Linked DNA regions of Homo sapiens. The protein of the gene in region 2 interacts with the protein of the main gene of each other region in a biochemical or structural test. Each region holds a gene or a part of one and is shown on either strand. Other genes may lie near its edges.

Region 1 (5,166 bases), on a different chromosome or scaffold from region 2:
AACAGGAAAACAATCAGCTACAAAATCACCAGTGTCTCCTGGATTCCAATCCTTGGTCAACAGTGCTAGATCTACAGAAGCAAAACTAAAATTTTTTTTCTTTCACAGAGTAGTTTTAAGCCTCCAAGCGTTTGAATCTTTAAAATGTCATTCAGGGACTTTAAATGAAGTAGTGAAGGCTGGGCACGGTGGCTCACACCTGTAATCCCAGCACTTTGGGAGGCCAAGGCGGGTGGATTACTTGAGGCCAGGAATTTGAGAACAGCCTGGCCAACGTGGTGAAACCCCATCTCTACTAAAAATACAAAAAATTAGCCGGGTGTGGTGGCGAGCACCTATAGTCCCAGCTACTCAGGAGGCTGAGGCACAAAAATCGCTTAAACCCAGGAGGTGGAGGTTCCAACGAGCCAAGTTCGCGCTGCTGCACTCCAGCCTGCGTGACACAGTGAGACTGTCTCCATAAATAAATAAATGGGAAAAAAGCAGACGAAGCATACTGGTTTCTCTTTTTAACCTTTATTTACAAAGAACACAACTCCTCTTGACACAAACACACACACATTTCAAGGAGGAGCCCATTAAGAACAACAACAGACTGGCGAGAATGACGGGGCCTTATTGAACACTGTCAATAAGGAACACTGGTCTGTGTACCCCAGACTAGGGGTCACTGCAAACATTTTCTCAGATATGACTTTTCACCTCCAAGACAGGAAAAGAGATCTTGACGTGGAGGCCCGCCCACCTACAAGGCAGAAAGCTCCACACTCAATCTTCAGCATCGTCAAACTGTCCTGTTTCAAAGACCATCTTGGAATAATAGGGTATCAGTGGAGGCGGATGGTGCCAGCTGGGGTCATAGATCATGTCTCCTTGTGGGGCACAGCACACCCAAGGTTTAAGCTCTTGAGAAATGCTCTCCTGGATGTCGTCAGCATCTGCAGGCAGTTTTAAAAGACAGATTAAGGGAAGGAAGGAGGGAAGGAAGGAAGGTAAAAACGGACAGCCAAAAAGGTATGTCTAGGGGACAGATCCTTGCACTTATTTTGTTTAAAAACACACACAGTTCTCCTTTCCTGAAGAATTGTAAATGCGTTCATTCGGAACAGCTGAGAAGCTATGCTTCTCAGACAAGGGTTCTTAGCAGTGAAGAAGCAAACTGGATAACACAGCACTTCTATCTGCAGCTGCTCAATTCATAGCAGAGATTTTTGGAGAGAGTAACAGTTTTGACTTTAAAACAGTGATACATTATGGAGTCAAATGCAAAATTTGGATTTTTTCAATATAAAAGAGAAGGTGTCACAGAAATTGGAGACCTGTAACAGATACCAGCCTAAGCTCATAGATGTGGACCCCTGTTCCAAACTGCCTTCAGGGCTGGTCTGACAGGTGTGTCTGAGAAGGCCTAGTTCAGGACCCCCAGAGACTCCACACCTACCATATGGATTCCCTTGATCTGCTTTCAACTCCGAGTCCCAGTCCTCATTAAAAAGATCGCCAGGCTGTTCCTTGGGTGGACAGTTTGTCCCTTCTGACAGCTCCCAGGTATTCAGTTCTCCATCAGAGTCCTCCTCATCCATGGCAAAGCCTTCCTCTTCAGAATGGGTGCCCTCACCCCGGGCAGGACTGTCATTAGGAATGCTCTGTGTTCCACGGGCTAAATTGACAAAGAGAAGATGGCCTTAGTGACAAACCAAAGAGGACCTGCTCTGTGCTCAGTAAATTTTGGGCAGACTTACTACGAAGGTAGTAAAACAAGTGCACAGAGTCTTCTTTAGCCACCGAGCACTTTTTTAAAAATGCACTTCTTTGTATGTTTTTAAAAGAGCTGATAATTTATTTTCAATAAGACGTTTTGTCTTATACAAGGCATTAATTGTCAGGTCCTTTAATTTACAAAGAGGGCTAGGGACAGTTAACATTTTCAGGTGGTTTGTATGTCACTGAGGCAAAGGGCCTCTGATAAATAATACACTTTCACAATACAAGCCTGAATTAAGTTTTTGCTCTTTTTTTTTTTTTTTTGAGACAGAGTCTCGCTCTGTCGCCCAGGCTGGAATGCAATGGCACCATCTCGGCTCACTGCAACCTCTACCTCCCAGGTTCAAGCAATTCTCTGCCTCAGCCTCCTGAGCAGCTGGGATTACAAGCGCCCGCCACCACGCCCAGCTAATTTTTTTGTATTTTTAGTAGAGACGGGGTTTCACCATCTTGGCCAGGCTGGTCTTGAACCCCTGACCTTGTGATCCACCCGCCTCGGCCTCCCAAAGTGCTGGGATTACAGGCGTAAGCCACTGTGCCCGGTTGTTTTTGCTCTTTTATTCCTCCCTTCAGCCTCAAAGAGCATGTTAGAGGTGAGCACAGGGACAAAGGGGAGCAGGGGCACTGCAGGCAGAAGACCAGAACCCATCTAATCACAATGGGCAGCACCTAGTGCCTCCCTCTGACATCAGGGAGGCCGGAAGGTACATTTTCAAAAGGCCTCACAATAACGGAGGAAAGACTGGGGAAAGATAATGGATTTCCGAGCACATAGTGCTTTGGTGATGCCAGGTCCCAGGAGAGAAGGCAATCAGCCTAAAACAGCCATGCTCTTAATACTGGAACAACAGTAACAGTGATAAGCAATAAAGTGATAGTTCAGAGCAAGGGGTCTAAAGCCAGACTGTCTGATTTCAAATCCGTGTTTTGTCAATTACCAAACATCGGACTGGGCCGGGCACGGTAGCTCACCCTTGTAAACCTAGCACTTTGGGAGGCCAAGGTGGGTGGACTGCTTGAGCTCAGGAGTTCAAGGCCAGCCTGAACAATGTCGCAAACCCTGTCTCTACAAAAAATTCAAAAAATTTAGCTGGGTGCAGTGGCATGCACCTGTAATCCCAGCTACTCAAGAGGCTGAGGTGGGAGGATCGCTTGAACCTGGGAGGTGGAGGCTGCAGTGAGCCAAGATCGTGCCATTGCACAGAGTGAGACCCTGTCTCCAAAAAAAAAAAAAAAAAAAAAAAAAAAAGTGTGATTGAGCTGAAATTTACTTAACTAGTTCCATAACATAAATATAGAATTACCATATGACCCAGCAATCCCAGTCCTAAACATATACCCAAAAGAACTGAAAACAGCTGTTCAAATAAAACAAGGATACTCACAGCAGCACTATTTACAATCACCAAAAGGTAGACACAACATCAAATGTCCATCAATGGATGAATGGAAAAACAAAATGTGGTATATGCATATGATGGAATTATTCAGCCATAAAAAGGAATGCAGTGCTGATACATGCTACGGCATGGATGCACCTTGAAAATACGCTAAGTGGAAGAAGCCAGACACAAAAGGCCACATATTGTTATGATTCCCTTTACAGGCAACTCACATTTGCCTATCCAGAACAGATAAACCCACAGAGACAGAAAGCAAATTAGTGGTTGCCAAGAGCTCAGAGAAGGAAGGAATGGAGAATGACTACTTGGTGAGCACAGGGTTTCCTTTTAGGGTGATGAAAAGATTCTGGAACTAGGTAGTGGTGATGGTTGCACAACACTGCCATTGTGCTAAAAGGCTACTGAATTATATGCGTTAAAATGGTTACATGGTAAATTTAGGTTATGCATCTTTTACCACAATTTTTAAATTGTTTTTATTTAACTGTTCTGTGCCTCAACTTCCACATCTGTAAAATGAAGATAGGGTTGTTGTGAGAGTTAAAAGAAAAAAAAAGGCCAGGCACGGTGGCTCATGCCTGTAATCCCAGCACTTTGGGAGGCCGAGGTGGGCGGATCACCTGAGGTCAGGAGTTTGAGACCAGCCTGGCCAACATGGTGAAAGCCCCTCTCCACTAAAAATACAAAAATTAGGCCGGGAGCAGTGGCTCACGCCTGTAATCCCAGCACTTTGGGTGGCCAAGGAGGGCAGATCACGAGGTCAGGAGATCGAGACCATCCTAACAAGGTAAAATCCTATCTCTACTAAAAACACAAAAAATTAGCCAGGCGTGGTGGCGGGTGCCTGTGGTCCCAGCTACTCGGGAGGCTGAGGCAGGAGAATGGTGTGAACCCAGGGGGCAGAGTTTGCAGTGAGCCGAGATAGTGCCACTGCCTGGGAGACAGAGCGAGACTCCGTCTCAAAAAATAAATAAATAAATAAATAAATAAATACAAAAATTAGCCAGGCGATATGGTGCACGCCTGTAATCCCAGCTACTCAGGAGGCTGAGGCACGAGAATCACTTGAACCCGGGAGACAGAGGTTGCAGTGAGCCAAGATTGCGACACTGCACTCCAGCCTGGGTGACAGAGTGAGACTCCATCTCAAAAAAAAAAAAGAAAAAGAAAAAAAGGGGCCAAGCGTGGTAGCTCACACCTGTAATCCCAGCACTCTGAGAGGCTGAGGCAGATGGATCAGGTGAGGTCAGGAGTTCGAGACCAGCCTGGCTAACATGGTGAAACCCCATCTCTACTAAAAATACAAAAATTAGCTGGGCATGGTGGCATATGCCTGTAATCCAGCTACTTGGGAGGCTGAGGTAGGAGAATGCTTGAATCCAGGAGGCAGAGGTTGCAGTGAGCCAAGATTGTGCCATTGCACTCCAGCCTGGGCAACAAGAGCAAAACTCCCTCTCAAAAAAAAAAAAAAACGGCAGGGGGCTGGGCACAGTGGCTCATGCCTTTGTAATCCCAGCACTTTGGGAGCGTGGGCTCACAGTAATCCCAGCACTTTGGGAGGCCTAGGTGGGCAGATCACTTGAGATCAGGAGTTCGAGACCAGCCTGGCCAACATAGTAAAACCCCATAGCTACTAAAAATACAAAAGTTAGCTGGGTGTGGTGGCGCGTGCCTGTAGTTCCAGCTACTCGGGAGGCTGAGGCAGGAGAATTGCTTTAACCTGGGAAGCGGAGGTTGCGGTGAGCTGACATCGTGCCACTGTACTCCAGCCTGGTGACACAGCGAGACTCCGTTTCAAAAAAAAAAGATATTTTGAGAGAGAACACATTCACGTAACTTTCAGTATACTGGCATAATTGTTCTATATTACTATTGTTATTAATCACATATGCATAATTTATAAGTTAAACCATATCAGAAATAGTATATATAGGAGGAAAAAAAAGCAGTTTCAGGCATCCATTGGGGCGGGGGGGTCTTAGAATGTATCCCCTAGGAA
Region 2 (7,292 bases):
TTCTATGTTTAGATACATCAAGATACACAAATACTTACCAAATTGTGTTACAGTTGACTACAGTATTCAGTACGGTAACATGCTGTACAGTACAGGTTTGTAGCCTAGGAGCAACAGACTATACCAGATAGCCTAAGTGTGTAGTAGGCTATACCATCTAGATCTGTGTAAGTACACTCTATATATACACAATGATAAAAATCACCCAGCAACACATTTCCCAGAACATATCCCTACCATTAAGTGACACATGACTGTACTAGAATAAACCATCTCACATTTTTGTTATTTTTGGTCATATAACTAAAAACATCTCAATGGTTTAAGTCCAAGGATTATGTGGTCTTCACACTAGTGAAGCAGTATCATTAAATTAATTCAAGCAAACTTAATTTCTGGTAGAGTTAACAACCCATTTACTAGTTATTAAATACCGGAAGACTTCAGTAACACTGAGATGTTGCCCTTGAAGTCTTAAAATAGTTTTGGGCTAAAGCTGACAAAAAACAAATTTTTTTTTTTTTTGGTTTACGTCTTTAGTATCTGAGCTACCATGTTAAACAAACTTTAAGGAAGTATTCAAACAAGAAAAAAAATAATTTCTTCATTTAGTCACACATACACGCACCAGAAGCACAAAAAAACCAATAATCGTACAAGGACTTCTCAAATTCTTCCTTATATATTGTGTAAGAATTACCAAATAGTAAAATCTGGAACATTCACTTTTAATTTTCCAAGCAAACAAGCTAATACACAGGAAAGCAAACTGCTTGCTTAGTACTCATTTTTTTAAATCTTATAATCTGTTTTCCCTTTTCTAATCCAAAGATTGTTTTGTCACGCACAAAAGATCAAATCTAATTCTACAGAATTGGAGAAAACAAAAAATTCATTTTATATATACATATATATGTATATACATACACACATATACGTATATACACACACATATATACATATATACACACACATATACGTATATATACACATATATACGTGTATATATATATATACACACAAGATTAAATTAAATATTTCTCAAAGGAATATTTAGACATTTCTCACATTTTACATAAATGTGGCAGGTTATGCTATTCATGATGACACTTAGAAAATTAATTTAGTAAGTTGATAGAAACGGGTACAAAAACACACTGCAAAACAAACACACACAAAAAAAGTATGAAACTGGATCCAAAAGGGTGTTTTGAGTATAAAACTATATTTAAAAGAGGGTTTCTTCTTTAAAAATTTTATTCTAGAAGTCAACTCCTTGACTTCTCAATCAAGAATCAACCAATCCAAGATGCTATTCATTAAAATTTACCAGGCCAGGTGCAGTAGCTCACTCCTATAATCCCACCACTTTGGGAGGCAGAGGCAGGTGGATCACATGGTCAGGAGTTCAAGACCAGCCTGACCAATATGGGGAAACCCTGTCTCTACTAAAAATACAAAAAAATTAGCCAGGCGTGGTGGCGCACACCTGTAATCCCAGCTACTCAGGAGGCTGAGGCAGGAGAATAGCTTAAAACCCAGGAGGTGGAGGTTGCTGTGAGCCAAGATCACACCACTGCACTCCAGCCTGGGCAACAGAGGGAGACTCCATCTCAAAAAAAAAAAAAAAAAAATTACCAAAATCATAATACATTTAACGTAGACCTGAAATAAGGCTCTCAGCTTAAACATTTTACCTATATTTTTGTATCTTTAACCTAAACTTCTAACATCGAAACTGTAAGACATGTTCCCAGAAACTTTTTCTCAAAACAAAAAAAAAGTATTTCCAAGTTAAAGTTTTCACATTGTTTTTCTCAAATGTAAATTTGCTGTTAATGGAATTAGAAAGTTACCTATGAGCTATTTCTAAATACTATTAATTTTTAAACCTAGAGAGCTTTTTTCCGTTTTCCTCTTGTTTTATTTTTATAGCACTATACTTACATATATTTTTGTAAACAAAATATATCTCCTCAAACTTTTAAAGAAATTGTTATGTTACTTTCCTTAAGGGTTAGAATGTTCTATGACAAATATTATGTACATGAAATTAGGAATGGAGTGATACAAAAGTTTAACAGTGGTTTTAAAAAATTATATTGGCCGGGCACAGTGGCTCACGCCTGTAATCCCAACACTTTGGGAGGCAGAGGTGGGCGGATCACAAGGTCAGGAGTTCGAGACCAGCCTGGCCAACATGGTGAAACCCCATCTCCACTAAAAATACAAAAATTAGTCAGATGTGGTGGCGGGTACCTGTAATCCCAGCTACTCAGGAGGCTGAGGCAGGAGAATCGCTTGAAACTGGAAGGCGGAGATTGCAGTGAACCAACATCACGCCACTGCACTCCAGCCTGGGCAACAAGAGCGAAACGCCATTAAAAAAAAAAAATTATATTACATCCTTATAACATGGAATGAAAACAAATCTGAGCATATGCTGGTATAATCAGATCTGTGATCTTTATTAAAATGTAAATTACCAGATAATCTCTAACAAAACAACCCACAGTATTTTAAATTGCAAAGAAATGTTTCCTACCTTGCCTGCTTCTCTTTCTAAGTCGACATACTCTCGGCTAGGTGTTTGTCGCTGTTCTCCCTGCCAGCTGGCCGGAAAAAACTGGAGAGACAGATTGGTTCCTGTGGCCACAAAAGCCTTTTAGAAAAATCAATACAAACAGGATCAGGAGCAGGACATTACATAAATTATGCAAGCAGTCATTTATTTTTACATCAGTTTATGTCTTAAGCCAGGCAGCACAGAGAATACTTAAAAGTAAAAAAAAACATGCACTCATCATTTTTCTTAAGTATTAAGTTACAAACATCTGATTCCATTTTGAGGACATTTGCCATTGGCTGCTTAAGTATAAAATCAGACATGGAATCAATACTTTCTTTCAGGTCATTTTTTGCTGACGTTAGGATCTCACACTGCTAATGTCTAACCAGAAGCCACTATCCATCTCTGCATTTAAAAACTTCTATTTTTAAATGTAAAAATCACTCAAAATCTAAAGATTTTGAATTTTAAAGAATACCACAATTTAAAATTGTATAAATGAGACACTTTAATTTTCCTTGATTTCCCTTGCTGAAACACTGCATAGCAGGCAGTACATAAAAAATGCACTTGGAATTGTCTCTCCTCTGATAAACCATACATTGGCATGGGATGTGACAGTACTCTCTAAAACCCTAGATGATTTTTAAAAATATGTCTTTTCTCACATTTGACTTTAGGAGAACTTGGTCTGACTACAACAAAGAGAAAAGTATTCATCTAATAAATATTTATAGATTAGATTTATAAATATAAAAGATTTGGATGTTAGAGCTCAACAGATGCAACAATCTAAAACCACTTCAATAAAGTGTCATTTTATGTAGGCCTTGAGCAAGTTACCTCTATATTTCCCTCAGGCAAAAAACAAAGACATTACCCCTTTCCCAAAGGAAATTAAGAAAAAAAGAAGTAAAAGCATTTTTGAAAAAATACATTTTTCATCATCTAAATGTAAACTCTTCTTTGCTGAAACCAGAAAAAGTTTTTTGTTTGGTTTATTCTACTAATTAAGTTCTGAAGCATAATTGGTTTCCATGCATAGAGTCTTCATCTCAAATCAAGAGGTTCACATTTGGGGCAATTTGTTTAAAGCCATCAACCAAGTTAGCTATCCAATAGTTCCCCTGATGGTTAACAGCTTAGATTCTTTAGAGGTAAAAATTATACTTCCTATTTCTATTACTGGCACTGTCGGTACACTTGTCAACCTAAATGCTAAATCTCTAAACCTCTCTGATGGCATTTCCCTAATCAACTGGGGTACCATTTTCATGTGGTAAATGTTTTATATCCATAGAAACTGAACTAACATCAATATTACAACATCATTTTAAAAAATCTTTCAGGCCAGGAGCAGTGGTTCACACTCGTAATCCCAGCCCTTTGGGAGGCAAGGCAGGTAGACCATCTGAGGTCAGGAGTACAAGACCAGCCTGGCCAACATGGTGAAACCCTGTCTCTACTAAAAATACAAAAAATTAGCTGGGCATGGTGGCAGACGCCTGTAATCCCAGCTACTTGGGAGGATGAGGCAGGAGAATCACTTGAACCTGGGAGGCAGAGGTTGCATGCAGTCAGCCGAGATTGCACCACTGTGCTCCAGCCTGGACAACAAGGCGAGACTCCATCACAAAAACAAAAAACAAAAAAAACTTCCCATGTACTACGAGCATAAATCTTAACAAAAAACCCCCCAACACTAGTTAAAAAAAAAAAAAGTTTCTGGGAGGGAAACTGCCCAGGCTGTACGACCTGAAGCATAATTCAGTTTTCTCACAAATCAATTATTTGTAAAGTGCTTAAAACAGTACCAAGTAAATGCTATGAAAGTGTCTGCTGAATAATATGATAAATAACTTTAAGCTCAACAAGAAAGCCAACTTTTTCAGCTTCAGATAATGAAATTCTCAGAGCAGAGTGGTGGCAGAAAAGACACAGCCCATGAACGACTGCCCCGTGTCAAAATCCCTGTGGCTTGTTTCTTCAGTATTCACGTAGTAGCAAATCCTTCCACCTCCAGTGTACCCCAAATCAGTTCTGTGCTAAGACACTCTGCAGATCGTATTACCTCATCTCCTGTCTTGATGCCAACCTCAGAAGAGATTTCCTGCTTCATCACTATATGTCCATTATCTCATAAAGATCCCTCTCTGAGACAGAAGTGGTAAACACAGATCATTCTAGAATAACATTTTCCAAACTTATGTGACCATGGAATTCTTTTAATGAAATACCTACATATAGGTAAGAGTTGGAAAAAGTCTGTTCCAAAATATTAATATGGTGTCAACATCGTCATAGGAAAATAAAGACGAAAATAAACAAAATGAAAACATTAAAATGCTACACTAGTATGACGCCTATATTTAAGATTTCCAGGTTGTCTTATGCTTTGTAGGTTTCACAAATTATAAAATAGCACACCTTGTGCCAATCCAACATACTTTTTACCATTCAATCTTTAGAATTAGAAATATGTATTAGTTTTTACTCTTCTCACCACAGAGTAACCATACTTCTTATAAATATTTTTTCTTTATTTGATTATTAGTGTTGAAGACGTCTCCAACATTCTTAACTACATAAGAATTGGTAAGAATAGGCCGGGTGCAGTGGCTCAAGCCTGTAATCCCAGCACTTTGGGAGGCCAACACAGGCAGATCACGAAGTCAGAAGTTTAACACCAGTCTGGCCAATATAGTGAAACCCCACCTCTACTAAAAATACAAAAAATTAGCCGGGTGTGGTGGTGTGCGCCTGTAATCCTAGCTACTCGGGAGGCTGAGGCAGGAGAATCGTGTGAACCCAGGAGGCAGAGGTTGCAGTGAGCCGAGAGCCAAGATCGTGCCATTGCACTCCAGCCTAGCCGACAGTGCAAGACGCCGTCTCAAAAAAAAAAAAAAAAAAAACAACGGTGAAACTCTGTCTCTACTAAAAATACAAAAACAAATTAGCCGGGTGTGGTGGCAGGCGACTGTAGTCCCAGTTACTCGGGAGGCTGAAGCGGGAGAATGGCGTGAACCCAGGAGGCGGAGCTTGCAGTGAGCCGAGATCGTGCCACTGCACTCCAGCCTGGGCGACAGAGCAAGACTCCGTCTCAAAAAAAAAAAAAAAAGAATTGATAAGAATAAATCAAGGCTGGGTGCAGTGGCTCACTGAGGCAGGCACATCACTTGAGGCCAGCAGTTGGAGACCAGCCTGGCCAACATGGTGAAACCCATCTCTACTAAAAATACAAAAACCAGCCAGGCGTGGTGGCAGGCGCCTGTAATCCCAGCAAGTCAGGAGGCTGAAGCAGGAGGTGGAGGTTGCAGTGAACGGAGATGGCACCACTGCACTCCAGCCAGAGTGACAGAGTAAGATCCAGTCTCAAAAAAGAATAAATCAGATTCTACTACAGATTCTTCGACCTGTGTTCACTTTTATTTAATGCTGATTGGGTTTTACAGTTAAAAACTCAATTGGCATAAAATAAGGAGGCTGATTGAGTTTTATAGTTAAAGAGAGATGATCAACACAGCCCTTAAATTATTTCACATCTAAATGCAAAATGAGGCTGGGAGTGGTGGCTCACGCCTGTAATCCCAGCACTTTGGGAGGCCGAGGTCGGTGGATCACCTGAGGTCAGGAGTTTGAGACCAGCCTGGCAAACATGGTGAAACTCCGTCTCTACTAAAAATACAAAAATTAGCTGGGCATGGTGGTATACGCCTGTAATTCCAGCTACTCAGGAGGCTGGGTCAAGACAATCACTTGAACATGGGGGACGGAGGTTGCACTGAGCCAAGATCATGCCACTGCACTCCAGCCTGGGCAACAGCAAAATGAATTCTTCATTAACCTCACTGATACATCAAGAAGATGTTCCAAATAAGAAGAGGACAACTGGGGCAGGAGAAAGGTTGGGAATAGTTTTGAGAACTATGGATATCCTTGCCATTTATGGCTGCTGTCAAAACAGGCAAAATAATGCCTTTTTCCACAGCCAAATAGGAAGAAACCCAGCCTGTTCATAAGTCATGAGATAAATTTCAGGCATTAAATTAAGCAGCCTCTAAATTCAAATAATCAAGTACCTCTGATATAAAAGGTATTGTGAAAAATAGCTGTATCCAGAGGGGTTTATACAAAATTAATGAGGTCTCTACCCTCTAGGAGCTAAGGATCCTGTAATTAAATGTGGGTTAACACTGAATTAAAGGAGGGAAACTAGAAAGAGAGAAAACTAGGAAACGTGAAATTCCTCTCCAAATACCAATAGTTACATTATTTAACAAAATAAGACATGAGCCGTCTTAAGTGCAAACCTCACACAGCATTCAATCTACCTTCTTTAACCTTTAATACTTCTCAGAAATTTAAAACTTGTAAAATGTGTCGAATCAGATACTTGTTTTATTTTTGGAGACCGGGTCTCACTCTGTCACCCAGGCTGGAGTGCAGTGGTACGATCATGGCTAACTGCAGCCTCGACCTCCCGGGCTCAGGTGAGGATCAGATTATTTGGAAGCGGGGAAGGTCTAGAATGTCTAATTCATCCTGGAAATAAATTCATGACAAACACTAACCACCTGTACTACTACTATAATATTACAGCATTTCAGATATCCTATGGGTTGAATTCATAATTCCATTCAGCAAAGTCTGAGATGACAGAAAACACCCTACTAGCTATGATTCACCAAATTTCCAAAAAAATTCAGCTTTCAAAGATAGTGAT

The links.
Region 1: the proteins of CBFB (region 2) and COPRS form a complex in vitro, tested with the Homo sapiens proteins (one study listed by BioGRID).

Annotation. Positions count from the first base shown.
Region 1 is NC_000017.11:31,851,371-31,856,536, forward strand, and holds the end of COPRS (coordinator of PRMT5 and differentiation stimulator), read right to left. Parts: intron 1,661-5,166; coding exon 1,442-1,660; intron 939-1,441; coding exon 769-938; 3' UTR 501-768; downstream 1-500. UniProt on the Homo sapiens protein: Histone-binding protein required for histone H4 methyltransferase activity of PRMT5.
Region 2 is NC_000016.10:67,032,009-67,039,300, reverse strand, and holds part of CBFB (core-binding factor subunit beta), read right to left. Parts: intron 2,663-7,292; coding exon 2,546-2,662; intron 1-2,545. UniProt on the Homo sapiens protein: Forms the heterodimeric complex core-binding factor (CBF) with RUNX family proteins (RUNX1, RUNX2, and RUNX3).